Linked DNA regions of Homo sapiens: regions 2, 3, 4, 5, 6 and 7 are each reported to be linked to region 1. Evidence: microRNA targets listed by miRTarBase, many of them from high-throughput screens and not tested one by one. Region 1 holds a microRNA gene; each other region holds the end of a gene's coding sequence. Distances are from middle to middle.
Evidence for each region. Region 1 holds the annotated microRNA hsa-miR-1296-5p (UUAGGGCCCUGGCUCCAUCUCC, at 1,398-1,419, shown strand). A microRNA usually pairs through its seed, bases 2 to 8, with sites in the 3' UTR of a target mRNA and lowers its output. Matches are read on the target gene's strand: a 7mer-m8 pairs with bases 2 to 8, a 7mer-A1 pairs with bases 2 to 7 and ends in A, and an 8mer does both.

Region 2: the mRNA of DHTKD1 is a reported target of hsa-miR-1296-5p. The part of its 3' UTR that is shown has no 7-base or 8-base seed match.
Region 3: miRTarBase lists SETDB1 as a target of hsa-miR-1296-5p. Seed matches in the 3' UTR shown: 8mer at 518-525.
Region 4: the mRNA of MPRIP is a reported target of hsa-miR-1296-5p. The part of its 3' UTR that is shown has no 7-base or 8-base seed match.
Region 5: miRTarBase lists RRP1B as a target of hsa-miR-1296-5p. The part of its 3' UTR that is shown has no 7-base or 8-base seed match.
Region 6: miRTarBase lists LIFR as a target of hsa-miR-1296-5p. Seed matches in the 3' UTR shown: 7mer-A1 at 1,358-1,364.
Region 7: the mRNA of CHD3 is a reported target of hsa-miR-1296-5p. The part of its 3' UTR that is shown has no 7-base or 8-base seed match.

What each region holds. Positions count from the first base shown.
Region 1 is chr10:63,370,354-63,374,430 of GRCh38, reverse strand. It overlaps MIR1296 (microRNA 1296), which reads left to right and starts at 1,383; the gene lies at 1,383-1,474. The region is part of intron 2 of JMJD1C (jumonji domain containing 1C); the gene reads left to right.
Region 2 is chr10:12,120,012-12,124,088 of GRCh38, reverse strand. It overlaps DHTKD1 (dehydrogenase E1 and transketolase domain containing 1), which reads right to left. Exons shown (of 17, transcript NM_018706.7): 16 at 3,822-3,907; 17 at 868-3,302. The coding sequence ends at 3,201. Among named protein-coding and RNA genes, the nearest start is that of SEC61A2, 7.6 kb to the left of the region's middle. RefSeq lists enhancers at 1,371-1,460, 2,201-2,250, 2,311-2,450.
Region 3 is chr1:150,964,043-150,968,042 of GRCh38, forward strand. It overlaps SETDB1 (SET domain bifurcated histone lysine methyltransferase 1), which reads left to right. Exons shown (of 22, transcript NM_001366418.1): 21 at 1-41; 22 at 205-695. The coding sequence ends at 322. It overlaps CERS2 (ceramide synthase 2), which reads right to left. Exons shown (of 11, transcript NM_022075.5): 5 at 3,778-3,835; 6 at 3,622-3,672; 7 at 3,350-3,442; 8 at 3,032-3,160; 9 at 2,714-2,820; 10 at 2,434-2,587; 11 at 1,144-2,246. The coding sequence ends at 2,106. Among named protein-coding and RNA genes, the nearest start is that of CERS2, 8.8 kb to the right of the region's middle. RefSeq lists enhancers at 739-883, 1,376-1,520 and cis regulatory regions at 811, 1,447.
Region 4 is chr17:17,184,169-17,188,245 of GRCh38, forward strand. It overlaps MPRIP (myosin phosphatase Rho interacting protein), which reads left to right. Exons shown (of 24, transcript NM_001364716.4): 24 at 655-4,077. The coding sequence ends at 726. Among named protein-coding and RNA genes, the nearest start is that of PLD6, 20 kb to the right of the region's middle. RefSeq lists enhancers at 633-1,133, 1,921-2,120, 2,151-2,220.
Region 5 is chr21:43,692,820-43,696,896 of GRCh38, reverse strand. RRP1B (ribosomal RNA processing 1B) reads right to left here. Exons shown (of 16, transcript NM_015056.3): 16 at 818-3,707. The coding sequence ends at 3,514. Among named protein-coding and RNA genes, the nearest start is that of PDXK, 24 kb to the left of the region's middle.
Region 6 is chr5:38,478,113-38,482,189 of GRCh38, reverse strand. LIFR (LIF receptor subunit alpha) reads left to right here. Exons shown (of 20, transcript NM_001127671.2): 20 at 1-4,077. The coding sequence ends at 595. Among named protein-coding and RNA genes, the nearest start is that of EGFLAM-AS5, 12 kb to the right of the region's middle.
Region 7 is chr17:7,911,368-7,915,444 of GRCh38, reverse strand. CHD3 (chromodomain helicase DNA binding protein 3) reads right to left here. Exons shown (of 40, transcript NM_001005273.3): 40 at 2,690-3,981. The coding sequence ends at 3,860. It overlaps RNF227 (ring finger protein 227), which reads left to right. Exons shown (of 2, transcript NM_001358699.2): 2 at 1-2,106. Among named protein-coding and RNA genes, the nearest start is that of RNF227, 2.9 kb to the left of the region's middle. RefSeq lists an enhancer at 1-438.

The DNA of each region.
Region 1 (4,077 bases):
TTATTTGCAGTTTATCTTGTTTTAAAACACAAATATTTGGCCAAAACAGGAGGAGTTTTACATCCTAAGGGGATGCAGCATTGAATGTTACTCTTTCTCTGCTAATTGGATATTTGAAAATAATATTTCGTTGTTTCAATTTGCATTCCTTTAATAGGGTGAATTTTTTTCATGTTTATGAGCAACTTGTATTTTTAGTGAATTGTTATTTAGTACTTATTAGGGTTTTGAGTTTTTTATATTTGTTATGAGCTTTCTTTATATTATTACAGATATTATAACCTTTTTGTCATATTTCATAGTTTGCTTAGCCAGTTGTTTGATAGTAAGTCTTTTTGAATTGTATGTTTATTTTAAAGTCTATGCAATGGGATATTGTCATTAATTCCAGTAGTCAGGTTATGTGTGCTTGCCTTCCTTCCTTTTTTCTTTTGTTTTAGGAGATTGTAAAAATTAATAAACAAGTGAAGTGAGAATGCTTGTTTGTAATAATTAAGAAAATAGTCAATTTAAGTTTCATAAGCATTTTGCAAACATTTATATACAGTTGATATGACTGAGATTTTATTGTTTCCTTTTTTGTTCATTAAAATTTGGCTTCTTTAAGGATGTCTATAAACAGCAATTATAAAGTTAAGCGTTTTAAAATTCCTACAGCGTAATGAAATACTATATCTACAGATTTGAGAAATTTGAGGGATCTGTATATGAGATGGCAATAGAATGAAACAGTAGAAACTAATACTTTGTCTTTAATTTTCTACAAATTTAATGTTTCTATTTCTGTGCACATGATACTTGCTTTATGTTCTTTTGTATTTAAACATGTTTGTATTTATTATCTTCTTTCTAGTTGTTTCACTCCTCGTGTGGTACTTGTTTAATATTACATATCAGTTACGTTATCTTGTCTACCTCTTATACCTAGAAATTAGTGGAAACTGGCAGTGTACCTGCTGTTTCTTGAGATCATGACAAGACAAAAACAAATCCTGTTGTCTCATTAACATATTTTAAAGTATATTTTTTAAAACTTAACATAATTGCATCTTCAGCAAAATATGAATAGTATAATACCCAGGCTCCTTCTCTGGAATTGTCTGGTTCCTCTTTCTTTCTAGGATATCAGTAGCAAAACATTTATGGGAGCACCACATGTAAGATGCTGAAGTGGTGTCTTTTTTTGCTTGGTCCTGTACAATCAGAGTACCACTTGAGGCCATTCTAATGCTGTAGGCTGAGGTAACTTGCGTCTTCATGTAAGTTACTTAATAGATTGTTAAATTTTATTTACTTTTTAATAAAGTAAAATACTTGTGAAAGCACATTTATCGGCACCAGGGAAAGAAAGTGTTGGCATTCATAATTGAAATCAACGAATCACCTACCTAACTGGGTTAGGGCCCTGGCTCCATCTCCTTTAGGAAAACCTTCTGTGGGGAGTGGGGCTTCGACCCTAACCCAGGTGGGCTGTAACACTGCTGTGTTTTCTAAGGGGCAGAGTTTTCTACTACTTTTCCGCTGGCCCAGCCTTCCAGATCACCCCAACCAGTGCTCCTATATAACCATCCTGTGCTCCTATAGAACTTTGTTTTGTACCTCTGTTTTAACAATCAGCACATTCTGCTTTGTATTATACCTATTTGTTTGCATGTCTGTCTTCCCTTAATAGATTGTAAGTTCTTTGAGGACAGGAGTCATGTCTTAGTCATCTATGTATGGTTCCTTGGAGTCTAGCACAGTGCTTTACCCATCTCAGAAAGTAAATTCTTATTTTAAAGTGATGAATGTGCTGCAACCCAGCTAGTGAAAAAGAACCCTACTGGGAGTTATCACAAGTTTTCTGACTATTAACATATGATAATATCAAAGGACAGGAAAGCAGAATCACCCAATTGTGGTAAAACTGTGAGTTACCAATTTTAAACATGTCAATATATAATAAAAAATACTAAAAAGCTTATAATGCCAATTCTCATCAGGTACAAATTTGATTCCTGAAATCACCAAGGGGAAAAATGTAAAATTACCTGAAATGCGTTATTTTAAAGATGTTAAAGGAAGAAACAGAAGTCCTCACAATTGACTTAAATATTCAAATCTTTGATAATTTACTTGAATTTCTGAATTGAGTTTTAGGAAACTCAGACTACTTTTTCTCAATGTAGCTTTTCCTTCATAGATAGGCAATTCTGGTTCAACCAGGAATTGTGATGACATCATAAACACGTAAACTCTTAGCAATTTATTTATTTTAAAATATTCTCTTAGAGTGCTTTTTACTTACTATCTGTTCCAAAAGAAACCCCCTCAAAGGAGAATAGAGTTCACTGCTCTTTGGGACAAGATTACCTTTATATCCAGCAGTTATCAAAGTTGGTTTAGATTATGGCCTCAAGCAAATTTTACTAAAATGTGAAAATATGCCACCTTCCAAGTCAGAAATAAACTTTGGAGTATGTTCATTTAAAGAGTTTTTACATATTTATAATTGAATTTCCACAATTAGAATAAACAGTTGCATGTCTTTTTGTACTTTGTTAAATAATGAAATGGAAGTAATGACAATATAACTTCAGGATTGTTATTTCTCTACAAGGTAAAGCACTTTAAGAGATCAAATTATACATAATAAAATATTAAGCTTTTTAAATGATAAACTCTAATACTGGCATGTATTGCAATGAACGAGTTCACACACTCATATCTTGTGGATTATAAAATGACATTATTCTTTTGGAAAGTATTATGTTATAAGAACCATAAGAAGTTCATACTCTTTGATTCATTAATTCTAGTCTTAGGAAACGATGCTTGAAAAACAGTTTTTAAAAAGTGTATTCAGTTTAGCTAATGTTTGTCACGTACCTCATACGAATTAGACACTGTGGTGGGAGCTGCAGATTAAAAAAATGAAAGGTTTAATGTTATTAGAAGAAAGATGTTTATTGCAGTCTTATTAAAGAGGAAAAGAAAAATGGAACAACCTTGATGTTCAACAATTTGTGAATGCTGTTAAATTAATATTTTGGCATATTATGCAGCTTTAAAAGTGATAATTGTACATACTTTAGGAAAATGTAGAGAAAATTTAAGTAAAAAAAATTAATTACATCAGCACTAGAATTATGTATTTAAAAAGTCTTATAGACCAGGGACAGTGGCTCATGCCTATAATCCCAGCACTTTGGGAGGTTGAGGCGGGAGAATTGCTTGAGTCCAGGAGTTCAAGACCAGCCAGGGCAGCATAGCTATACCCTCATCCCTACCAAAAAAAAAAAAAAATTAGCCTATTGTAGTGGCGCAAGCCTTGTAGTCCCAGCTACTCAGGAGGTTGAGGTGGGAGGATTGCTTGACTCCAGGAGTACAAGGCTATGGTGAGCTATGATTATGCCATTGCACTCCAGCCTGGGCAATGGAGCAAGACCCTGTCTCAACGGAAAATATATATATTATAAAGTAATGGAGATCATTATTTTATATTATGGCAGAATTTTGCCTGACCAAAATTGTCTTTTCCCTAAAAAACAACTATTATTTCCTAGCAAATTGGAAATTTCATATAATGATGTTATTCAGTATTTTATATTTTGGAGGTAGTCTTCTTCAAATGAGTTATTTTAGTAAACTTGTTTTATGTTTCTGTTAATATACTTTGATAGGTATTATTTGTGTTTTGCTATTGCAGCATTTAAAAAACTGTCCTTAATATACAAAGAATTAACACTTAATAAAAATGACAGCTTAAACCATAACAAAGTAAAATATAATGAAGATTATTTAAGGCTTGTTTTAAGTCTGTCTGAATTTCTTGTTTACTTCTAGATTTGCATGGCTTGAACGTTAGAATTGGGGGGAAAATAGCAGTTATCAAGGAAGGTAGCATAATATGTTAAGGACATAGACTTTGTGGCATATTTCTTGGTTCAAATCCTGATTCTTCCATTTACTGTTAATGTCATTTATACTCTGTATGTCTCACTGTGTTCATAATAGTAATATCTACCACACAGAGTAGTGAAGATCAAGCAAGACAGTATATAAATAAAACTTCAGTATAGCACTGCAGTGAGTTTA
Region 2 (4,077 bases), 51 Mb from region 1:
GGAATTCCTCAAATGGTCCCTCCCTGCAAGGGAATGTAAAATGCTGATCCATGTTGCAGTAGTGATTGAGAGTAGAAAGGTTAAGCCAACAGAAGACACATTTCATGACTCGAGTTAGAGAAGACATAAAAAGAAACCATGAACAGACTGTGAGGTGTAAAATTAGAAATTTGGAGAGATCCACCAGTCACAGTGGCTCACGCCTGTAAACCCAGCACTTTGGGAGGCCAAGGTGGGCGGATCATGAGGTCAGGAGATCAAGGCCATCCTAGCTAACATGGTGAAACGCCATCTCTGCTAAAAATACAAAAAACTGGCTGTGGCACGTACCTGTAGTCCCAGCTACTCGGGAGGCTGAGGCAGGAAAATCTTTTGAACCCAGGAGGTGGAGGTTGCAGTGAGCTGAGATCGCACCACTCCAGCCTGGGCGACAAAGTGAGACTCTGTCTCAAAAGAAATTCGGAGAGATTTAAAGTAACCTTTTATTTTTTGAGACAGAGTCCCGCTCTGTCACCCAGGCTGGAGTACAGTGGTGCAATCTCGGCTCACTGCAACCTCCGCCTCCCGAGATCAAGTGATTCTCCTGCCTCAGCCTCCCAAGTAGCTGGGATTACAGGCATGCACCACCATGCCCTGCTAATTTTTATATTTTTAGTAAGAGACGGGGTTTAGCCATGTTGGCCAGGCTAGTCTCGAATGCCTGACCTCAGGTGATGCACCCATCTTGACCTCCCACAGTGCTGTGATTACAGGCGTGAGCTACCACGCCCAGCCTAAACTAACCTTTTACAAAGATCTAATCTTCCATCTCATTTTTGTGCTTAGACTTTTGAAATCTTTTAATTCAAGAAGTCCAGGAGTCCTGAGGAAAAAAAATGACAATGTGCTTTTATTTTTTTTCTTGTTAAAAAAAAACAACATTGGTAAATCGTTTTCATTAAATAGACCTTTGTGATTTTACTGATTTACATGAGTGGCACTAAATTACATGATTTATAAGGCTTGACACAGGAAGGATACACTGAGGTATATGGTAAGAAAAGGGATATGAATACTAGAGAAATGTTAAATTGATAACTAAGGCACACTTTCGGATGTGAATCATAAATCTACCACTGTGGCTAGAACAGCCTATATGTACATGGATTCTGAAAGACATGATCAGTTGCTGGTAAAAGTAGAGAGGGCCTGGGCTTCTGCCAGTCCCCTGGTACTTCCCACACCACTTCAGAGAAAAAGCATCATGACACAAGCACAGTAGATGGTAGAGGCCCCCAGCACTGAGTCAGGTGAAGCTACATGGTTCGCTGTTTAGTTACGTTTCCAGTACTTGGTTTAATTTCACAGTGAGGGAGTCGGTTGGTGATCTCTAAGAAATCCCCAAGCACCTGGTGTTGGGAAAGTCCCTCAAATAAAGAAGTGTTCTTTTCTTTTTTTTTCCTCTCTCTCTCTTTCTATTTATTTATTTTTTGAGATGGAGTCTTGCTCTGTCACCCAGACTGGAGTGCAGTGGCAGGATCTCAGCTCACTGCAACCTCCACCTCCTGGGTTCAAGCGATTCTCCTGCCTCAGCCTCCCGAATAGCTGGGATTACAGACACCCACCACCACGCCCAGCTAATTTTTGTATTTTTAGTAGAGACGGGGTTTCACTATGTTTTGTCAGGCTGGTCTCGAACTCCCAACCTCAGGTGATCCACCCATCTCAGCCTCCCAAAGTGCTGAGATTACAGGCGCAAGCCGCAGCGCCCAGCCAAGAAATGTTCTTTAAACATCACAAATAAACATACTGCATCAGGGACTTGTAGGGACAAGACTGATTAACCAGGGGCTGAAATCCCCATATCAGAAACCCCAGACAGTTAAAAATAGTAAGATATCACTGTAAGAACAATTTAAAGAAAAACAAGTTTACGGCAAAACAGACTACAAATCAATTTCATTATAACTAAAACTCCTTAATTTAAAAATACAGTACTAGAAGATCATCCACCCAGAGATTTGTATTTAGTAGGACCTAGATTTGCTAGTGTTGGGGAGACACTTCATACAGTGACTGGAAAGCAGCACCAGAGATTACATAAAATGAAAATATTAGTACTGCCACAGGACTTTCAAAAAGGAGGGGGAAAATTAATGAAAGTGACATGCATCAAACAAATCAAGAGGCAGTGTTGAGGTCATCTCCACGGAGCTGTAAACTCAGAAGTGTTTCCTGGTCATATATGGTCAATTAGGGTCAAGTCTGAAATCATCTAGATAATGACCTAGTTTTCCAGCTCACTCAGAGCTAAAATCCATAACACTATCATACTTTCCTTTTAATTTATGAGATGGAGTCTTGCTCTGTCGCCCAGGTTGGAGTACAGTGGCGCCATTTCGGCTCACTGCAACCTCTGCCTTCCAGGTTCAAGCAATTCTCCTGCCTCAGCCTCCGGAGTAGCTGAGACTACAAGCGCATGCCACCACACCCAACTAATTTTCATATTTTTAGTAGAAACGGCGTTTCACCACGTTGACCAGGCTGGTCTTGAACTCCTGACCTCAGGTGATCCAGCCGCCTAAGCCTCCCAAAGTGCTGGGATTACAGGCGTGAGCCACTGCACCCAGCCATCACACTTTCTTTTTTTGTTATTGTTTTTCTTTTGTTGTTTTCCTATTTCTACCATCACACCTTCAAGGATAAATTTGCTGGTTGCATTCACATATTCATAACCAGTTCCCCTGGTTATTCCACCTATTGCAGATTAAATCACGTATATCAATCCCAACATCTTAGAGGAATACAGTCTTTTCATGTTACCCAACAGAGGGGTTGAGAGAGTGGAGGAAGGAGGCCTCTTTTAATGGGTTTTTTTTTTTTTTTTTTTGAAACGCAGTCTTGCTCTGTCACCCAGGCTGGACAGCAATGGTGTGATCCTGGCTCACTGCAACCTCCGCCTCCCAGATTCAAGCGATTCTCTTGCCTCAGCCTCCCAGGAAGCTGGGATCACAGGTGCCCACCACCACACCCGGCTATTTTTTGTATTTTTAGTAGAGGCGGGGTTTCACCGTGTTGGCCAGGCTGGTCTCGAACTCCTGACCTCAGGTGATCCACCAGCCTTGGCCTCCCAAAGTGCTGGGATTACAGGCATGTGCCACCCCACCCGGCCTTAATGGCCATTTTCTTAAAGAGAAATAGTGTTTCTTCAAAAGTCATCATCAAGCGAAGGTCTTGGCGAGGATATCTTCATGCTGGTGCAAGTGAACTGTGCCAATTCCTACAGCGGGTACTGGCAAAGGGGGCCGGCCCACCAGACGGAGCTATAAGTGCAGCAGAGAAGAAATAAAATGACATTTTGACTAGATCAGAGCTCTGCTTAGTTCCAACAAGACAGTGCATGTATTTCTCTTAGCTTGTTTAACCATAAATCACCTCTTTCAAATAATGAGTTACGCAGAAGAGATTAGAGGGACAGGGCTCCGTGCCTCAATGCCTGTAATCCCAGCGCTTTGGGAGGCCGAGGTGGGCGGATCACGAGGTCAGGAGATTGAGACTATCCTGGCTAACATGGTGAAACCCCGTCTCTACTAAAAATACAAAAAAAATTTAGCTGGGTGTGGTGGCGGGCGCCTGTAGTCCCAGCTACTTGGGAGGCTGAGGCAGGAGAATGGCGTGAACCCGGGGGGCGGAGCTTGCAGTGAGCTGAGATTGCGCCACTGCACTCCAGCCTGGGCAACAGAGTGAGACTCTGTCTCAAAAAAAAAAAAGAAAGAAAGAAAGAAAAGAAAAACAACATGCACACAAAACACAAAACACTACCAGAGAAAACGTGTGATTACCTTGCAGGCCAGCTGCTTTTCAAACCTTGGAGAAACAAACGACCACGGACCCATGTTCTGAGGTTCCTCCTGACTCCAAATATGATCTATGAGAGAAGAAATTCTTTCAGCACCTCAAGTAGACACATGCAGACGGTCCCCAATTTACTATGATCCCACCTACGATGGAGTTTTCAACTTTACGATGGTGTGAAAGGGATTCACATTCACTAGAAACTGTACTTCAAGTACCCATACAACAGTTCTGTTTTTCACT
Region 3 (4,000 bases), not on the chromosome of region 1:
CATGATCTTCGCTTCCCCTGGGTGGCCTTCTTTGCCAGCAAGTAAGGAGTCAGGAAAGGGGATGACTGGGGAGGGGCAAGGACCACTGAAGTTCTAAGGGCCCCTCCTCCATTCATGATCCAACTCCACCTACATATTCAGTAACCCCAAGTGCCTGGGTTATCTGCTGTCTTTGCCACACACCATCCTTTTCTTCCTCTTCAGAAGAATCCGGGCTGGGACAGAACTTACTTGGGACTACAACTACGAGGTGGGCAGTGTGGAAGGCAAGGAGCTACTCTGTTGCTGTGGGGCCATTGAATGCAGAGGACGTCTTCTTTAGAGGACAGCCTTCTTCCCAACCCTTCTTGAACTGTCGTTTCCTCAGGAACTGGGTCTTCCTGATTGTTGAACCCTGACCCGAAGTCTCTGGGCTAGCTACTCCCCCCAGCTCCTAGTTGATAGAAATGGGGGTTCTGGACCAGATGATCCCTTCCAATGTGGTGCTAGCAGGCAGGATCCCTTCTCCACCTCCAAAGGCCCTAAAGGGTGGGGAGAGATCACCACTCTAACCTCGGCCTGACATCCCTCCCATCCCATATTTGTCCAAGTGTTCCTGCTTCTAACAGACTTTGTTCTTAGAATGGAGCCTGTGTATCTACTATCTCCAGTTTGTATTATTTCTTGAAAGTCTTTTAACAATATGATAAAACTAAGATTGTGGTTTTGTTTCTCTCTCTCAGCCCGATACTCCCAATTCTGGATCTTTCAGTGAGGTATTATCCCCATCCTCCCCTGTGGGCTGCTGTCATTCATCTTCTACCTTGTCTACCTTTGCTTCTTGCATGTGAATTTTTTTAGATGGAGTTCTCGCTCTGTCACCCAGGCTGGAGTGCAATGGTGCAATCTCGACTCACTGCAGCCTCCGCCTCCCGGGTTCAGGTGATTCTCCTGCCTCAGCCTCCTAAGTAGCTGAGATTACAGTCGCCCGCCACCACACCCAGCTAGATGTATTTTTAGTAGAGATGGGGTTTCGCCATGTTGGCCAGGCTGGTCTCAAACTCCTGACCTCTAGTGATCCACCCTCCTTGGCCCCTCAAAGTGCTCAAATTACATGCATGTGAAATTTAAAAAAGAAAATATTACATAACTGCAAGGAAGGCATAAGAAAGACTCTCTTCGTTTATTTAGTTGATCCCCCTTCTCAATTCCTAATAGTCTGACACTTATTGCCATGTTTTATTTAATATTTTTTATTTAATCTTTTAATTTTTAAAAAAAACCCATTAACAGTACATTTTGGTCTAAAATGGTCCCTCTGCTGAAATGCTAGGTGCTAGCCGTAATTCTGGCTTTAAAACCAAAACCCCAAATATTTAATAAATAAAAATTAGAATTAGTTGCCATTCTACTCCAAACCAGCTAGCCTAGCTGAAGAGAAGAGGGAAGGGGGAAGAGGCCAGAGAAAGGAGGAGGCAGTCAGATCTTAGACCTGTCGCTACAGGGACAGCTGAAAGAAGTAGCACTAAGAAAGATCATCCGAGCAGTCCCCAGTACAGCCCCCACTTTTTGGCAGAGGTAGGGTAAGGGTTATGTGCACCCTCCTCCTACCCTCAATTCATTTGTGTCATAGAGGGAGAAAGTTAAAAGCTCAGCTTTGGTTTCTGGCCCAAGTTAGGGAGCTTAGAAAGGTTAGCCTTGGTCCAGCTTTGGCAGAATGAGGCCCACAGATGGGACAATAAGGCACAACCCTGGCTCTGGAGGTCAGGGAGTCAAAGGCAAACAGCTGGGGCCAAATTCTCAGAATAAGGAATGTGAATTGTAACCCCTACCCACAGAGAGCTGAGGGAGGGCCTCAAAAGCAGTAGAAAGGATGACTTGGCGGGTAGGGAGGAAAATACGACCGTCCCCCTCTAACAGAATATAACCAACGTCCCCCTACCTGGGGATAGGCTGGTTAGAATTTGGTTTAAAGGCAACTGGGTGACAAGCAAGGAGGGAGGATGCAGAGAACTCTCCTCTCACTTTCTCCTTTTTCCCCAGAGCTTAAAGTGACCCTATAGCGCAGGGAGCGGGGTAGTTCCTTGGCTTTATGCATTAATCTGGGAGGCAGCTGGAGTAATGGTTCAGTCATTCTTACGATGGTTGTTATTGAGGATGGGGTGGCCATTGGCTAGGGGCCGGCTCTTTGCTCCTCCCCCAGCTGCAGCCTCCTCCCCCTCTGAGCTCTCTGTTTCTTCCCGGTCACTGCGTTCATCTTCTACCAGCTGTGGAAAAGGGACAAGAAGGGTTATTACATGAGATCCTCAAACCCCTAAGTACTGCTTCTCTCTGAGGGCTTGTTCCTGTTATACCCAGGGCTCCACACTAGTTTTTTAGAGAGTTACTGGCAAGATGGGAGTTCAGGAAGTTGTAGAGAGTAGTAAGGCCTACACAATGGGAACAGGGCTTCACCTTTCCAGTTATGAACTTGTGGGCCATGCGCAAAATGAGGTAGGCCCAGAAGATATGCAGCAGCTGTAGAACTCCCATCATGGAATTGAAGAAGTAATAGCCAAAGAAGGCAGGATAGAGCTCCAGTGGGTACACCAGGGTGCAATGCAGGATCCTGAGGATTCAAGGAGAGAGAGAACGTGGACAAGAGCAGGTCAGACACCGGGGAGATACAGGAGGGGAAGAAAGGCAAGGCTCCTGATTTCTTCAGAACAGGAGTGTAGCCTAGCTGCCTACTCACCAGAAGGGCAGGATGACCAGTCGGGTGATGATAAAAACAATGGCGAAGACGATGAAGATGTTGTTGCAGGTGTTCTTCCATCCCGCGTAGTTAAACATCTTGGCTGACTGCATAGAGAGCCCCCATCCATCATCATGGGCTCCTGACTCCCTCGAGTACATTCATATGTACACTCCAGTTAGGAGCACTGACTCTGTGCCCTCCTCCTTGGTCCCAGGAATGTCATCCTCCAAATTCCCACCCCGCACCTCCCTCCCAAAGAAAACCAAAGGGACAGAAGAACCTGCACCAGGGTCTCTAGATTTGAGGAAGCCTGACCTCCAGCAGGTAATCGGAAGAGTCATGCAGAGCCATGATTAGAGTCCCAGCTCGGATGTAATTGGCAAACCAGGAAAAGCTGATGAGAATGATGGTGGCCACATGGTGGATGATCTGTTCCTTGAAATCCTGCAGAGATGATGCAGGCCCCAGGGCCTTTTTTTATTCCCCAGCTCTCACTATGCCTTCTTACCCCTTGCCTTTGGTTCCCCATATACCAACAGCTCCATTCAGAGTACCCAGAAGTCAAAGGAGAGGGTGTTCATCCCAGGGCCTCATTTTGGCTCTGAGGCTTAATTGCACAACCCCTTCACCCACCTTTCGCTTGACATCAGAGGCAATGCTGAAGAGCAGGGACCAGTAGAAGGAAAGTTCAATCATGTAGTACCAATACTGGGAAGGGATAGTGCTCTGGGAGAGGAGAGAGAGGTAAGAGCAACCAGCCGCAAGGGTGTCCCCACTCCACAAACCCCCTAGCCCCTGAGGTTCTTCATTCCATCACTCTAATCCCTCTGCCATGGATTCCACAAACCGTCTCTTCACTAGGGTGTGTCTTAGTCCACCCCCACATGAGGAAGCAGAACTCATACCTGTATGGGATATCCCTCCCAAACTTTCTTCATGTCATAGAACCAGGGTTTCTGCAGAGAGATGGTGAGAAGTTAAAAGAGGAGGAACCCAAATTCCATGGCCTCACCTGACCTTGCCAGAGAACCTACTCCCACCTCCCAGTAATCCCCACTCACATCCACAATGACGGCCATGCCGGCAATGAAGGCAATCAGGTAAAATGTGAATCTCCAGCTGGCAGAGGAAGCAGAAATGGCTAGGTCAGAGGATAGCACAGTCCCCCAGCAGCCCCCAAATACCTGCAGATACCCTCACAAGATACCATTAATAACTGAATTCACCTCCTCACATCTCCCTGCGTATAGCCACCGCCTATCCCTCCCAGCAAGACACATCAGG
Region 4 (4,077 bases), not on the chromosome of region 1:
GACATACAGATTTAAGCTTTAGCAAGATTCCACGTGAACAGAGTATTGGTTTTATGTTTTGAAAATCTTACTAGATACGTTGGCGTGTTCCCACATCCCCATAACACTCACAGGCCTCTGATGAGGGAATGCCAGAAATGGGTCTGAGGGCAGCAGGTGCTGCGGAGGCACTGTAGGAGCGAGGCCCTGTCCCGGGACACCCATCCTGCTGGGGATTCCCTGGAGCATCTGGTCCTCCTCAGCTGAGGCTGTCAGGTGAAGAATCTCTGGAGCTGGATGTGGACAAATCCATTCACAAGACAAGACACGGGGATGGGCAGTCTCCTTGCTCATTGCACTGTTTTCCCTGGCTGGATTCGTTTGATCACTGCTTCTCTAAAGAGCCCTAAGCTCAGAATTTAGCTGCTTAAACACATGGTCTTGTCTCTCTGATTTTTTTTTCCTTTTTCATCCAAGTAATTTTGTGAAGGGGAAAACATCCTCCAATAACAGCATTTCCCGGGGACTCTCCTCCTGGCATGCCCACTAACCGCACCTGCACCCGGCTCTCTGACTGATGCCGGCTCCACCAGCGGTCCGGTCTGGTCCGGTCCGGTCCAGTGCAGGGGGTCTAACGGTGTGTTTATTTTCTCCTCCTGCTCTGTCTCTACCCAGAGTCTGAAGGAAGGCCTGACGGTGCAAGAACGGTTGAAGCTCTTTGAATCCAGGGACTTGAAGAAAGACTAGGTGTGTCCCATCCAAGTTGAGCACGCGCCTTCCCCAGCTTGCAGCAGCACACCCCAAGCGCTGCTTTTCACCTGTACCTTTGTTTTATTATTATTATTATTATTGCTGTTGTTGTCATCGTTAACTGTGGGCATGGAATGCGTGAGGCTGGCTTCTGGGTTGTCCACACCACTCTCTGCTGTGTTGACTTCCTGTTGTCTTCATCAAAGCTTTTTTCCGTGGTATTCTAAAATTAGGCCAGCAGTGGGGGCTGGGAGGGCATCTGTGTTAGTCCTTTCCTGGCTGTGACCCGCCACACTCACTGTCAGTATTAAGGCCCAGCAGCCTGTTGATAAGCTACCCTGTCTCACCATGTGCTGGTGTGGAAACGGGGCCCAGCCAGCACGCCTCAAGGTAGATGGAATCCCCACTGGTCAGAGAAAAAGCTATGCGGACACTCCAGCTTGGCCTGGGTCACAGCACTGACTCCTCACCCGCTAGTCTGGCTGTTAAGAGGAGAAAGTGCACTGCCTTCCAGCCCAGGAGGAGGACAGCATTTTGTATTTGTTCCACTGATGCAGCTTAGAACCACACCCCTGAGAGTCGTGGCAAACCTTTCACAACCTGGAAAATGTTGAAAGCAACCATTCCTATTTTTGTTTGTTTTTTATTAAATCTTGCACAAAATCCCCGGCCCCTCTCCTTCCTTCCTTCCTTCCTTCCTCCGCTCGTTCCTTTCTTGGTCTCCAGTAACCCTGGTCTTTTCATAACTGCTCGAGATTGTTGACCTGCAGCCCAGGTTTCAGACTCTGATTGCAAAAAACAAATGAATTCCCCCCAGGAATCATTCAAAATGGGGGAAGGTTTGGGGGTTTGGGTTTTTTTTTTACCTTTTGGAAAAGAAACCGTCACATTGCTTTGGAAAAGGTTGAGAGGAGACCCCTGTTAAGTCAAGAAGAAAGTACAGAGGATGTCAGAATCTGATGAGAACAGCACATTAGTGTTTATTGAGACTCCGATCTTAACTCTCATTTAATTAATCTGAGCTCTGAAAACCTATCTTGCAGCATTTATCTTTAAAAGAGCCTGGTTAAAGTAAACCTATACTAACAATTTTGCTTTTTCTAACAGTTTGAGGAAGACCTTTTTAACCACCACAAAACATTCTATGGCAATTCTTGAAAATCTCTTAAATTGGAGTCTATTATGGCCCCATGAAAACCATTAATCCCATTAAGATAGGGAGTATAAACCCCTGGCTGGTGGAACAGGTTCTGCTACTTTAGGAGCAAGGTGGGGTGTGAGTAGATGGTTTTCATGCCAAGAACATGCTTTCACTTTGTATTCATGCTTGTGTTGGTGTGATGGTCTCTGTGGGTGGGTGGATGCTTTGGGCGTTGAAATCTAGAAATCCTGTTGCTCAGTTTCTAGATGAAGTCATGAGCAAGGCCATCAGTGGAGCTCTGGCCCCGCCCCCAATGTGCAGAAGGGCCGGGAGCAAGGCCTGGAGTTTTCATGTGTTTTCAGACCCAGGTTTAGGTGCTCTCTTCTCACTGAAATAACTAAGTGCTCTCCACTGGCATCGAGCCCTTTCCACAAGTTTTTAAGGCTCTTAACCCACACTTTCACTCCTCTGCTACTAGTCTTCAGTGTTGTTAACAGCAAGAGAAAATTGGGTTTGTTTAAAAATCTACTTCTCTGAGGTGGCACAGTTGCGTAGCTGTAGTCCCAGCTACTCAGGAGGCTGAGGTAGTAGGATTGCTTGAGCCCGGGAGGTCGAGGCTGCAATCAGTCATGATCGTGTCACTGCACTCCAGCCTGGGTGACAAAGCAAGGCCCCATATCAGATATAGATATACTTATCAGACCCCCCCTGACCATTTAGATTGGCAGTGCTTTGAGAAATGCACTATGACCTTTCTGTGTCAATGGGAATATACAGAAGGAACATTCGGGACCCCGCTGTCCCCCACAGCCTCATTGTTGTCTCCAGGACACTGCTGGGTCACACGAATGCTCCAGGACAGACAGGGACCTGGAGTGCATCAGGATCTGACCAGATAGGAGTTTTTGCCTCGTGTCTGGGTGCTACGATTTTGTGCCGTTCTCTGAGGTCCACCACCTGCCCTTCCTGGCATGGTTTCCTTCGTGACCATCCCTGCTGCCCCTGGGGGTGGACCCCACTGGCCCTTCTGCAGACAGCTCCCTGCCTTCTGCCCTCCAGGGGGTTCTGGCCAGAGTCCATGCTTGGAGACAGGATCATCTGCCTTCAGCCCTCACAGTGCTTTAAATTAAAGCAAGTTTGCCCATAGGACAAAAGAGCATTTGATTCCCTTTTTTCTGTCACATATCCCTTGAGGCTGGACTTCAGGAATCCTGGAAAATTAATATGAGTGCAGCATGTGAGGGGTCAGAGACAGGCCAGCAGGGCGTCTGCATTCCTCCCTGCCACAGGTCTCTCCCCAGAGGCTGGTTTAGTGTAGGGTATTGCCAGGAAACGGACTGAGGCTGCTTTGCTAAGAGCTCCTGAAAATGCCCTGGGCCTGTCCTGGCGTTTCTGAAGAGCCCTCATACAGGGACAGCCACCATCTGGGTCAAGGAAGTCTGGGTTCCCTGCTGGTGGGCTCCATCCTGCGATGGAGTGAACCAGGCGAGAAAGGATGACGATGTTCTTCATGTTGCACCTGGACATGCCCCAGGAACAGAGACTTGCCCAGGTGGCAACACTGGCACAGATGTTGACGGCTGCCCAACTGGTGCCACACTGAGCAGGGAGCCTTGTGCTGCACAGGGCTGGGCCCTCTCTCCAGTTTCCTTCCTGCAGGCATCCAAATACCCTGGAAGGGATTTAACCCCTGAATTCCAGAGGGAAGAAAGAAGAACAGTGAAGAAGTAGAACTGGTTTCTGTATGGGGAGAGGAAAGTCTTAGGGACAGCTGCAGGCGGGGTCTCAGGCTGCTCCTTGGCACCAGCTACACAGTAGTGAGCTTTCCCAGCTTTACCGATGAGGAAGAAGTTCAAATAGATAGACTTCAGCATTTTAATTATTTTCCTATAAATGTATTTATGTGTAGTATGCTAGCACCAGCCAGTAAGCTGTGCCACACATATGAATGGGAAAGCGAGGCAGTTGTGCTCGTGTGAGTTTCTGCAGGCTTGTGGGTAATTACCTTGTGTGCACGCCTGCACGTGCAGAATAGTCACTTTCTGCTGGTCAGTTTCTTTATCCACCCATGGTGCCCCAGCCCCAGGCAGGTGTGGAGACCAGCATTTCAGAGGACGCGCTGTCCACAGCCTCCCGGGTCTGAGTGGATCATTGGGCAGGGGTGGAGACAGTGCGCTGCCCTCTGAGCTGGAAGCCTGTGCTTCAGG
Region 5 (4,077 bases), not on the chromosome of region 1:
ATCCTCCTGCCTCAGGCCCCCAAGTAGCGGGGACTACAGATGCACGCCACCACGCCTGGCTAATTATTTGTTTTTTTTTTTTTTTTGTAGAGACACGGTTTTGCCATGTCGCCCAGGCTGGTCTCAAACTCCTGGACTCAAGCGACTTGCCTGCCTAGGCCTCCCAAAGGGCTGAGATTACTGGGGTGAGCCGCCGCGCCTGGCCCAGGGTTTGTTTTTGTTTGCTTGCTTGTTCAGTGTCTGTCTGTGGACTTGTCTGGGATCCAAAGAACAGGTGAAAAATTTGTTTCGGGGAACACGGGCCTATAAAGACTCCGCCATGCCTGTACTCTGCTTGCCCAACACTGACCACACCCACTGCCAACACCCAGAACAGGCTGTCTGCTGGGTACCAGCCCACCCGTGCCCGCCTCACCCTAGCTGCAGCCTCCCTGTGCCCGCCTCACCCAGCTGCAGCCTCCCTGTGCCCGCCTCACCCTAGCTGGAGTCAGTTTCTGGGCTGCAGTGGGAGATCTCCACCCGGGACACTGGCACTTCTCCGCTCATCGTCACAAGCGTAGGCCTGTGGAGTGATGTTTTAGACACGATAGTGAGCAAGGGCATTTGTGCGCAGTGAGGCCTGCTTCAAGCACTTGGAGACGATCCCCGGAGCAGCGCCCCCACCGGCTCTGGCAGCAGCAGAGAGATGAAGAGAATGGTACCCAGAGTCTTGTTTTCAAACCCGACCAACACCAATATCTTCCCAACTCTGCTGTGCTGGAACAGCTCCCAAAGAGGCCTATTTTTACCCATACTGAAAGTCAACATCAAACACAAATTGGAGGGCAAAGACTTTTTTTTTTAATTGGACTTGGCTTTGACGAGTACTGACAAACCCTGCAGACACTAGTACAATTTGATCGTAAACAAAGTCCTTGCCAGCATAGTCCAGCAAATTCTGATAAAACACATACAAAAGTTAAAAGACAGCTCGATTTCATCTTCCTCCCAACACCTGCAACTGTTTCCAGATTTTCTGTGTAGTCTTCTTTGTGCTTTCAGTTCAGTAAAAATTAGAAAGGATAACAAACTTGTAAAGTCAGATACCTAATTGTACAAAATTGACTAGACCATGGAGAAGGGGGAAGCATCATTTTACAAAATATTGTTAAGATCACCAGCATTAATTTAAATTATTTTCCTTTCTGGACTTCCAAGTCCACTTGGCAATTTTACTTAGGAAAATATCATGCGTAAATAGAAAACCAGTATTCTAAACACATTTTCTTTATGTGACATATTCTTGTGCGTCTATGTAATGAGAATTTTTAAAAAATTGTTTTCTTCCTGCTGTCAAAACTTAGGCATTAAAAATAAGGGACTGTAAACCTAGTTGACTTACCCATAAAAAGGAGTAAGTTCGGAGAATGAGAGAAGGACCAATAGAATCTAAGAAGCACCCTGTCACTCCCAGCCGGGACCTCTCAGGCATGGTTTTGACAGGAGGTGCATTTATAGGACATTCACTGGTTCCTCAGAATGGACAGATAATATAGAAATGCTAGGAAAAAACATTCCTGCAATAGTCTGCAGAACAAATGTGCCAGTTTTGCCTTAGATGTCCTAAGACATCTCAACAATGTTGGATTATATGGCCCGTTTGGCTATATGACCCATCTTTAAAGCTGAAATAAAAATTGTTAGAAAAATATTCTAGGAAGAATGAAACTTAAAAAAAAAAAAGAAAAGTTAAAACTATTTGCTCACCTTAATTGTTTCACTGTATCAGTTTTGGTTCTGAATGGGATGTGAGGATCCTATCTAATGCAGCCATTAAGCCACCACAGCTATGTTGTACGTAAGACTTCTCATTACAGTGACGATTAACAGCACAAGTTCATTACTTTTTTCATGGCTCATTATGACAAAACGATTACAGAGTAGGCGAAGAACAGAGTGCTTTCTCCTCACCAGGGCCTTCATCAGTGAGTCAACTGCTCTTGACGCCAGCAAGTCAGTCTGATGTTCGCAGGTGAAACCCCACCCTTGGCTCCATGAATGAATGAGACCGAGGTAAACCCAATGCAAGCTCTGCAACCCCAGGGGCCGAAGCCACGTTGTCCAAAGCCATAGCTGGGACCTTGGAGATCCTGGGGCCCTCTGCTGGGAGGCAGCAGTGGAGAAGGGGACTGGCCGCGTTTTGCTGAAAAACCGAGGCTCCTGTATGGGGGGCATAACGGGAAGGAGGCGGCTTTCACTTCCAGGCCTGAGCAGAGCGTGGCTGGCTGGGAGAGCTGCACGCCAGCCCGAACCGTGTGCCCGTGCCCTCTCACCGTGCAGACGGTAGCTGCGGAAGCCACGGAGAAGGCGAGCAGCCTTGGCGGCTCTCCTCAGGAGCCGCTCACTTTGAATCTGCACCTTCTCCAGCTCTCAGGCCCAGGTCAGACACTTCCTCAAACAGATCAATGATCCAGCAATCGCTGCTCAAAAGAAGGCCTTATTTCTGTTTCTCCAACGAAAGCCTGAGTGCCTTCCGCCCGTGTTTGTAATGAACTTACAGGAGAACGGTCTGAACTGTAAGTGCACGCTTCCGCATTTGAGAGGAAAGGTCGCTGAGCCGGAGCGCAGGCTCCAGATGCGCAGGCAGCCTCTAGGGAAGATGGGGAGCTGCCATGGAGCCGGTCAGGCAGTGACTCGGCTGGAACGTGGACGGAGAGAGAGAGAAACGGGAGCGCAAGGGCTTGGAGGAATGAGTGTGCTCCACGCAAGGACCTCAGCAGAAGGCTCAGCACGGGGCGGGGTCCTGGGTAAGAGCCGGGGGCTGCGCTGGGCTCCCGGGAAGACACTTTGGGCTTGCCGTAGAGGTAGGAAAACAGGGAGGGAAACCGGGTAGGGGGAGGAGAAGAAAAAGCCCCCAGAACGCAGAGCCTCTTCTTTCCCCACCCCTACCTGTCCACACCCCCAGCTGAGCACATGTAGAAAAACTATGGTATTGCTGATTCTGTGACAAGAATCTTCCCCATCGGTAACCTGCCAAACACCCACAGAACATGGCAATGAAGCCCTACATGCTTTTAAAAGAAAACAGACTGTTAAGACTAACAGAAACCAACTTAGTACGGCGAATACGGTAATGAGTACCAAATTCCGCAGAACTGAGAGCTCAACAGAAGTGCAGTTCCACCTTTCATTGTGCCAGCAGCACTGATTGATTTAAAGTTCAGATCAACGTGCTCTCCTCAGCTTCAGAGAGGGTCTCATTTCCTACACCAATGGGAATCACTGAGGTTACCCAAAAATGTAAAATCCTGGAGAGCTCAAACGCAAACATGGTTTGTAGCAAAAGATTCAACCAAGACGCCCGCAGCCACTACAGAGGGGCCAGGACGCAGCAGCCTGCGGGCACTCTCAGAACCTCGTGCACACAACTTATGGGAACTTACAAAATCATAAAAAAGGCCCCACATTCTTAAAGGTATAATTTATAGCGCATTCTGTACAAAAGCAGTCTTTTACAAGGGACTCTGCTGCTCCTCAGAAGAAATCCATAGCCCTGGGCCTTCTCCTTGGTGTGGTGGTCAGGGGCTTCTTGGCCACCAGGGGTGAGCTGGCAGGTGAGCTGGTGGGGGTCTTCAGCACCCCGTGGAGGGGCTTCTGTTCAGGGTCGAAGGCCACTCGAGAAGGGCCCGTGGGACTGACCAAGATACTCTTGTCTGTCTTCTTGAATTCTGTCCCAAATGAGAGCAAGGCCCCATATTAAGTGGGTCCGACAGCTGTCCCTTCAACACCTTAGACAGCGTCCTGCCTGGGTGCCGACCCCACCCACTTGCTAGGACGAAGCAGGGCCATCTCAAGGCCCTGCAGAGAGCAGGCCCAAGAGCCTTCTGAGGAAAGGAGGGCAGTGAGGCCACATCCCATGCCTCAACTCACCCTCCCAAGGGAGGGCCCAGGGCTGCCTGCACAGACTAAGGGGAGCTGCTGGTAGGGTGGCTCCTGGAAGGGTGAACATTGGGGGTGGGGGTGTTTTGGACAATGAGTGAACCAGGCATTTGTGTCTGGGACAAATCTGTGCTATGTGGAGCTGCAGGATTCGTACTG
Region 6 (4,077 bases), not on the chromosome of region 1:
GAATCCTTGTACCCCAAATAATGTTGAGGTTCTGGAAACTCGATCAGCATTTCCTAAAATAGAAGATACAGAAATAATTTCCCCAGTAGCTGAGCGTCCTGAAGATCGCTCTGATGCAGAGCCTGAAAACCATGTGGTTGTGTCCTATTGTCCACCCATCATTGAGGAAGAAATACCAAACCCAGCCGCAGATGAAGCTGGAGGGACTGCACAGGTTATTTACATTGATGTTCAGTCGATGTATCAGCCTCAAGCAAAACCAGAAGAAGAACAAGAAAATGACCCTGTAGGAGGGGCAGGCTATAAGCCACAGATGCACCTCCCCATTAATTCTACTGTGGAAGATATAGCTGCAGAAGAGGACTTAGATAAAACTGCGGGTTACAGACCTCAGGCCAATGTAAATACATGGAATTTAGTGTCTCCAGACTCTCCTAGATCCATAGACAGCAACAGTGAGATTGTCTCATTTGGAAGTCCATGCTCCATTAATTCCCGACAATTTTTGATTCCTCCTAAAGATGAAGACTCTCCTAAATCTAATGGAGGAGGGTGGTCCTTTACAAACTTTTTTCAGAACAAACCAAACGATTAACAGTGTCACCGTGTCACTTCAGTCAGCCATCTCAATAAGCTCTTACTGCTAGTGTTGCTACATCAGCACTGGGCATTCTTGGAGGGATCCTGTGAAGTATTGTTAGGAGGTGAACTTCACTACATGTTAAGTTACACTGAAAGTGTTCATGTGCTTTTAATGTAGTCTAAAAGCCAAAGTATAGTGACTCAGAATCCTCAATCCACAAAACTCAAGATTGGGAGCTCTTTGTGATCAAGCCAAAGAATTCTCATGTACTCTACCTTCAAGAAGCATTTCAAGGCTAATACCTACTTGTACGTACATGTAAAACAAATCCCGCCGCAACTGTTTTCTGTTCTGTTGTTTGTGGTTTTCTCATGTGTATACTTGGTGGAATTGTAAGTGGATTTGCAGGCCAGGGAGAAAATGTCCAAGTAACAGGTGAAGTTTATTTGCCTGACGTTTACTCCTTTCTAGATGAAAACCAAGCACAGATTTTAAAACTTCTAAGATTATTCTCCTCTATCCACAGCATTCACAAAAATTAATATAATTTTTAATGTAGTGACAGCGATTTAGTGTTTTGTTTGATAAAGTATGCTTATTTCTGTGCCTACTGTATAATGGTTATCAAACAGTTGTCTCAGGGGTACAAACTTTGAAAACAAGTGTGACACTGACCAGCCCAAATCATAATCATGTTTTCTTGCTGTGATAGGTTTTGCAAGCCTTTTCATTATTTTTTAGCTTTTATGCTTGCTTCCATTATTTCAGTTGGTTGCCCTAATATTTAAAATTTACACTTCTAAGACTAGAGACCCACATTTTTTAAAAATCATTTTATTTTGTGATACAGTGACAGCTTTATATGAGCAAATTCAATATTATTCATAAGCATGTAATTCCAGTGACTTACTATGTGAGATGACTACTAAGCAATATCTAGCAGCGTTAGCTGTCCATATAGTTCTGATTGGATTTCGTTCCTCCTGAGGAGACCATGCCGTTGAGCTTGGCTACCCAGGCAGTGGTGATCTTTGACACCTTCTGGTGGATGTTCCTCCCACTCATGAGTCTTTTCATCATGCCACATTATCTGATCCAGTCCTCACATTTTTAAATATAAAACTAAAGAGAGAATGCTTCTTACAGGAACAGTTACCCAAGGGCTGTTTCTTAGTAACTGTCATAAACTGATCTGAATCCATGGGCATACCTGTGTTGCAGGTGCAGCAATTGCTTGGTGAGCTGTGCAGAATTGATTGCCTTCAGCACAGCATCCTCTGCCCACCCTTGTTTCTCATAAGCGATGTCTGGAGTGATTGTGGTTCTTGGAAAAGCAGAAGGAAAAACTAAAAAGTGTATCTTGTATTTTCCCTGCCCTCAGGTTGCCTATGTATTTTACCTTTTCATATTTAAGGCAAAAGTACTTGAAAATTTTAAGTGTCCGAATAAGATATGTCTTTTTTGTTTGTTTTTTTTGGTTGTTTGTTTGTTTTTTATCATCTGAGATTCTGTAATGTATTTGCAAATAATGGATCAATTAATTTTTTTTGAAGCTCATATTGTATCTTTTTAAAAACCATGTTGTGGAAAAAAGCCAGAGTGACAAGTGACAAAATCTATTTAGGTTCTCTGTGTATGAATCCTGATTTTAACTGCTAGGATTCAGCTAAATTTCTGAGCTTTATGATCTGTGGAAATTTGGAATGAAATGCAATTCATTTTGTACATACATAGTATATTAAAACTATATAATAGTTCATAGAAATGTTCAGTAATGAAAAATATATCCAATCAGAGCCATCCCTAAAGAGTGTTCTCTTGTCTTCCTTTGTATCCTCTTTGGCTCCTTCCCTTAGCTTCCACCCCAGACATCAGACCTGGGGCTGCCTTCTCTCCCTGCCAAAGCTTGCTGTTAGCATTGTCTGCTTGCCCTCAACTCCTGCCTTGTTCCCTGTTGAAATGTATCAATCCCGTACTTTATCTCTCCAGGACAAGGATAAGTGTGGCTACAGTAAAAGTTTATTGCTCTAAACGGCGCTAACCTGAGATAATGAGAAAAGGCCAGAAGAGATTGTTTGATCTCTGTCTGTCAATATATATGCATTTCAACTGTGACCATCTGGATCCAGGGCCCTTTCTAACCTATATAACGACTCATTTGTTTGGTTAATGATGAATATCACTGGGGCTCTTAAGTCCTTTCGTTCTATCCAAGACTTCATTGTTTTTTTCTGTATGAAAAAAGTGCAGAATATCACTCACCTTTCCCCTACTTTTGGATCCCCTACACGAGGATCACTAGCTTAATGAGAAGCAGAGTAACGCTATTAAGTCTGGGCAAGCTCCTTATAAGTTGCTGTGTGCTTAAAAGAATGTGATTTATGTCTGGGGCCAAAGCAGTTTTCCTTCTTTTCCCTCATTGAATTCAAGACAGCTAGACCCTTGTGTAGATCCCAGGATATTACCTCTACTCCCCCCAACCTGTGTGTGTAGGGAGAGTAACAACACGGGAAGAGGGGAGGGAAGTTGGAAGGAGATTGGTCACATGTTCAGTTGTCTGAGATACTGGTAAATGTGCGCTGTTTGTCAATGAAGGTTGCATGCCTGCATTTACAAGGTGGTCTCATACTGATTGTGCTCTGTCCAGTTAGATTCGTGGCTTCTCCCTTGGAAGCTACAATTAAGGACTAGTTAGAAGCAGAGGCTAGATGTGTTCTCTCCAGCCCTTACTAACTGGGAAAATAATTGAGAAATCCCTCTTTTCCTCAGTGAAAGCCCAGTCATTGGTTAGAAAAATCTAATTGTCAAACTAGCATTATGTTCCATCATATCTGTGGGATAGTAATTCATGTAAGACACATTTTTACCTCTCTTACAAGTCAATTCACTTACAAGCCAGTTTCAAATCAAGCTTCCCTTGCGAGGAATGGAGATCATTATGGGGCTTATTATGACTACATTTCTTTTATGAGTGACCATTTTAAATAATTAATATTTTATTTAATATTAAATTATTAAAGACTTAGCTAGACTTTTAACATTAGATGAACCTTGTGAATCATATATTGCATAGATTAGCACATGTATGCAATCTAGGTCATCAATTTGTTGAATTTATACAGCCCTAGATTTGAGATTGTGGCCCTGAGTATCTGGATAGTTGAGTTGTGTGTTTATGTGCTTATATGATAGAGGTGCTTTGTTCCTGCAGCTTAGAAACAGAAGCAGCCATTCACTGAGAAGCTTAAGAGAGGAAGTATCAACCTCATTTTCCAAACCAGCATTACTTTCACCGCTCGTGGATCTGAAAGATTACATTTAGAACATTTAGTACTATTACACTCTCAGAAACTGTGGTAAAAAGTCACATTTTCAAAACTTCATGCATATTGTATTCTTGTTGGAAATAAGTCCTATAGTTTCTTAATTGTCTTCATGCCGTCCATATTTAACAAACATTGCAAGTCCTTTTTATATTTGGGTAATTATTTGTA
Region 7 (4,077 bases), not on the chromosome of region 1:
CTCAGATCCCAGGATTGGCATGTGATGAGAGAGATGAGCCGAAGGCAGGAGGGAACGCCCTGGGAGGTGTTGATGCTGAGTTGGGGAGGCTCCTAGACGAACTCGCCCCCATCTACTGACTGTGCCAGTCTTACATTTTCAGGATGGAGTGGCCAAGGGATGATATAAACAAAGCCTACGTTACCGTGGGAAGAAGACAGACTGTTTTCTTAGCTGGGACGTTGGCTTTTGTCCAGGGTGGCTCTGGTGTGTGGGAGCAACAGGTCCCATTTTAGCAATTCTTTGTCAATGGTTTGAATTTTTTTTTTTTTTAAGATGGAACGGGAGAGAAGAGGCTAATTTTCGCGTCATGTTAATCTCACTTCTCTGGCATGTAAGGGTGCTGGTATGCCTGCTGTCTCCCCACTCCCAGTTCTGTGTTCCAGAAATTGAGATGGCTCCCTGCCTGTGACTATGATTAGGAGCCTTGCTTCATTTCAGAATCTCCCTTCAACCTGCTAGGGCAGGTATCAGAAATTCCAAAGGGCATTTATGTGAGGCACCTAATTAGAGCCTATCAAAGTAGGAAGGGAGAGCCATTTGAAAGGCATCATATTTCAAACTTTTGCTATTATCTGTGTTATCTTTACAGTCACGGGAACACACTAGCGCTACTGAAAAGATACTTATACAATTTTAAGTGTCTTTAAAATTTGTGTCCCATAATGGGACATCACCTGTTGTATATATGCCATGTATTCTATTTTAGAATCCTGTATCTTATGACCATAAAGTCATAGTCAAGGACCAGCAGTGTTGGTGTACTGTCAACGGAAGTGCACAGTCTCACTCTAGGATCCCACTCCAGACTTCCTGAATCAGACTCTGGCAGGGTTTTTTGTTTTTTTGTTTTTGTTTTGAGCCAGAGTCTCACTGTGTCGCCCAGGCTGGAGTGCAGTGGCGTGATCTCGGCTCACTGCAGCCTCCGCCTCCCAGGTTCAAGCGATTCTCCTGCCTCATCCTCCGGAGTAGCTGGGATTACAGGCGCCTGCCACCACACCTGGCTAATTTTTGTATTTTTAGTAGAGATGGGGTTTCGCCATGTTTGTCAGGCTGGTCTCAAAACTCCTGACCTCAGGTGATGGCGCCCACCTTGGCCTCCCAAAGTGCTGGGATTATAGGAGTGAGCCACCGCGCCGGGCCAGACTCTGGCATTTTAACAATCCCAGGTGATGTGTGTGCATGTGAAAATTTAAGTACCATTGGTCTAGATCCTACACTCTTTAGGATATCACCATCTGTAGGTAGAATATTTAAAGCATAATAGGTATGACTGATAGATTATTTTATCCAAAGTTCTTTTTTTTTTTTTTTGAGATGGAGTCTTGCTCTGTTGCCCAGACTGGAGTGCAGTGGCGTGATCTCGGCTCACTGCAAGCTCTGCCTCCTGGGTTCACGCCATTCTCCTGCCTCAGCCTCCCAAGTAGCTGGGGCTACAGGCACCCACCACCACGCCTGGCTAATTTTTTTGTATTTTTAGTAGAGATGGGGTTTCACCGTGTTAGCCAGGATGGTCTCGATCTCCTGACCTCATGATCCGCCTGCCTCGGCCTCCCAAAGTGCTAGGATTACAGGCGTGAGCCACCACGCCCGGCCCCAAAGTTCTAAAGTAACATTCTATTGCTAAAGAAATCCTAACCTACTATGTAACATTTTTCTCTTAGTTAAAAATGTGAACTTATTATTAACCTCAATTTTTTAGAGGCCTCCAATCTTTTTAAAATATAAATATTTTTGATTGACAAATCATAATTATACACTTATGGGGGTATAAACCTCAATTTTTGTAACCCTATTTTGGCATTTTCCTGTCCTTACATCTCAGCTTAAATGCTCCCTCTTTTGGGAGGCCTTTTTCTGCCTTCAACATAGTAGAGCCTTTTCCCCCACCCCTCTGTAACATAATGCCCTGTTTTATTTTTACTGCTTTTATTTTCATGCTTTGTGGGTGTCCCCACTGGAGTGTAAGCCCTATGGGAGCAAGGGCTGACCTGTGACTGTTTTATCTCCAGGGCCAACAGCAGTGTTACTGTATAGTATGTACTCAATAAATATTTGTTGGCTTTATCTCTTATTTTTTAATATAATAGCCTTGTGAACTAAGTGTCTGGCCTCTCTCAATCTCTCAGAGGCTCTGTTTAGTGAACAATAAACATCAAGGAAGTGCCTAGCAGTTCAAATCTTTGGTAAGCTAGACAGATCTGACCCTCAACGCCTTAAAAAAAAAAAAAAAAAAAGTGTGCCTTTGCTTCATACTGGAGCTGAACCTGTGGAGCTGTAGTGACCTCTACTGACTCTTAGGGGAACTAAGCAACTTGAAGGTGGAAAGGATGATCAAAAGGATGGCTGGAAGGCAGTTTTGAATCTTGATAGGCGCTCCTCCCACTACATTTCTGTCCAGTAAGTCCCACTCTCTCTGAAGTCAACCTGAGGCTACGTAGGTATCTGCTGCTCACCCTCCTTCTCTACAGAGGCCATGACATAGCTGGGGCTGGAAGAACCTCAGTTTTAGTGAATAATCTAAGAGATAAAAATGAGGAAAAGGAAAAAGTTGTAGGATTTTTTTAAAAAGAAAAGGCAGAAAGCAACAACCTTTCTTATCCCTCCCCCCAAAAACTCCCCCCCCCCATAAAAAATAACAGAGCACACAGAAAGGAAAGTATAATTTATATGTACAACCAATAAACCTGATACAGAAGAGGGGATCAGGACAGACCAGGAGTGGGTGTGAAGAGAGACTGGGAAAGGGGCAGCAAGAAAGTGAAGGGGCAGCAAAGAGGAAGTGGGGGGTTCGCCATGCAAACTGCCACTCTCCCCGGCCCCTCCTGGGAGGGGGGATGTGCCCACATTTCCCTAGCCTGCCCTCCACTATTTTGCTCTGGTCCCAACGACAAGGTAGCTCCCAAGACCCTGACTAGGTCCCCTGCCTGACTTATACAAATTTAGTCTGTATCCAGGCCTTGAGGAGGGAGGGTAGTAGAAGTCTTCCAGGAACCTGAGCCCCAGAGCTGGGCTTCCACCACATCTGGCCCATTGTATTCTCTCCCACCCTTCTAGGTTACCTGGGTCCCTAGAACAGGTTGGGGAGCTCCTCTTTGGCTTGAGGGAGTATCACCCAACCATTACTCTTTTTGTAGGGGTGGTCCTTGGTCCCTAGGGAGGGGGGAACATTCCCAACACAAGATGCCGGTACACAGGAGGTAACTGAGCCAGTGAACGGCACCTTTATTCTGAGGCTGAACAGCAGTTGACTTCCTCCCTCATAACTGCTCCACCCTCCACGTGGGGAGAGGTAGGGGACGGTAACATGCAGCCACCCCTCCTCGTCCCTTCCTCCCTCCCAGGGCTCATTTTCATCCCTCTCTAAAGTCCCCCTCCTCTCTTCAAAGCTCTCTTCCCCACAAAAGTTCCTAAAGGCCAGGCAAGGCTGATTCTCCACTTCCACATGAGACAGAGCTGATTCTGCAGGGAAACGGCTGGGGAGGCTCCACCTCTTTCCTCCCCACAACCATTTACTGGGAAGTTGTGTATACTTGGCAGTGTGGGAGGAAGGTACTTGGAAGACCCTGCCAGCCATCTCCCACCCAGACTTCTTCTCACCAGCACAGTCTTCAAGGCTTGGTGGGAAAGGTGTGTGGGAGTGGAGAAAGACAAAGGGCCCTTCTTGAAGAGAGGAGCTGCAGAGAGGGGCAAAGGGGTTCCTAGCCCAGTGATGGCCCAAGGGGTGGGGAAGGTGGAGGGCTGGCAGCAGGCCCCAGCGCTTGAGCTGGGGGTCGGCCTCGGGGACGGGGCCTGGGTGAAGGGCAGGCCTGGGATCCAGTCAGTCGTCTATACAGATCACCTCCCCGGCTCGGGGCTCCTTCCGATCCAGCCCGTCTGACACCAATGCCCCCACCATTTCCTTCTCCTTCTTCACAAGCACTGGAGGGCCGTTGGTGGCGGCTGTTTGGGAAAGGGGTAAGGAAAGATCAATCTCCAGATCACTCTCAAACGTCACTTCATGACAATGGTGAATTCTCACTTCTAGGTCACCTCCTG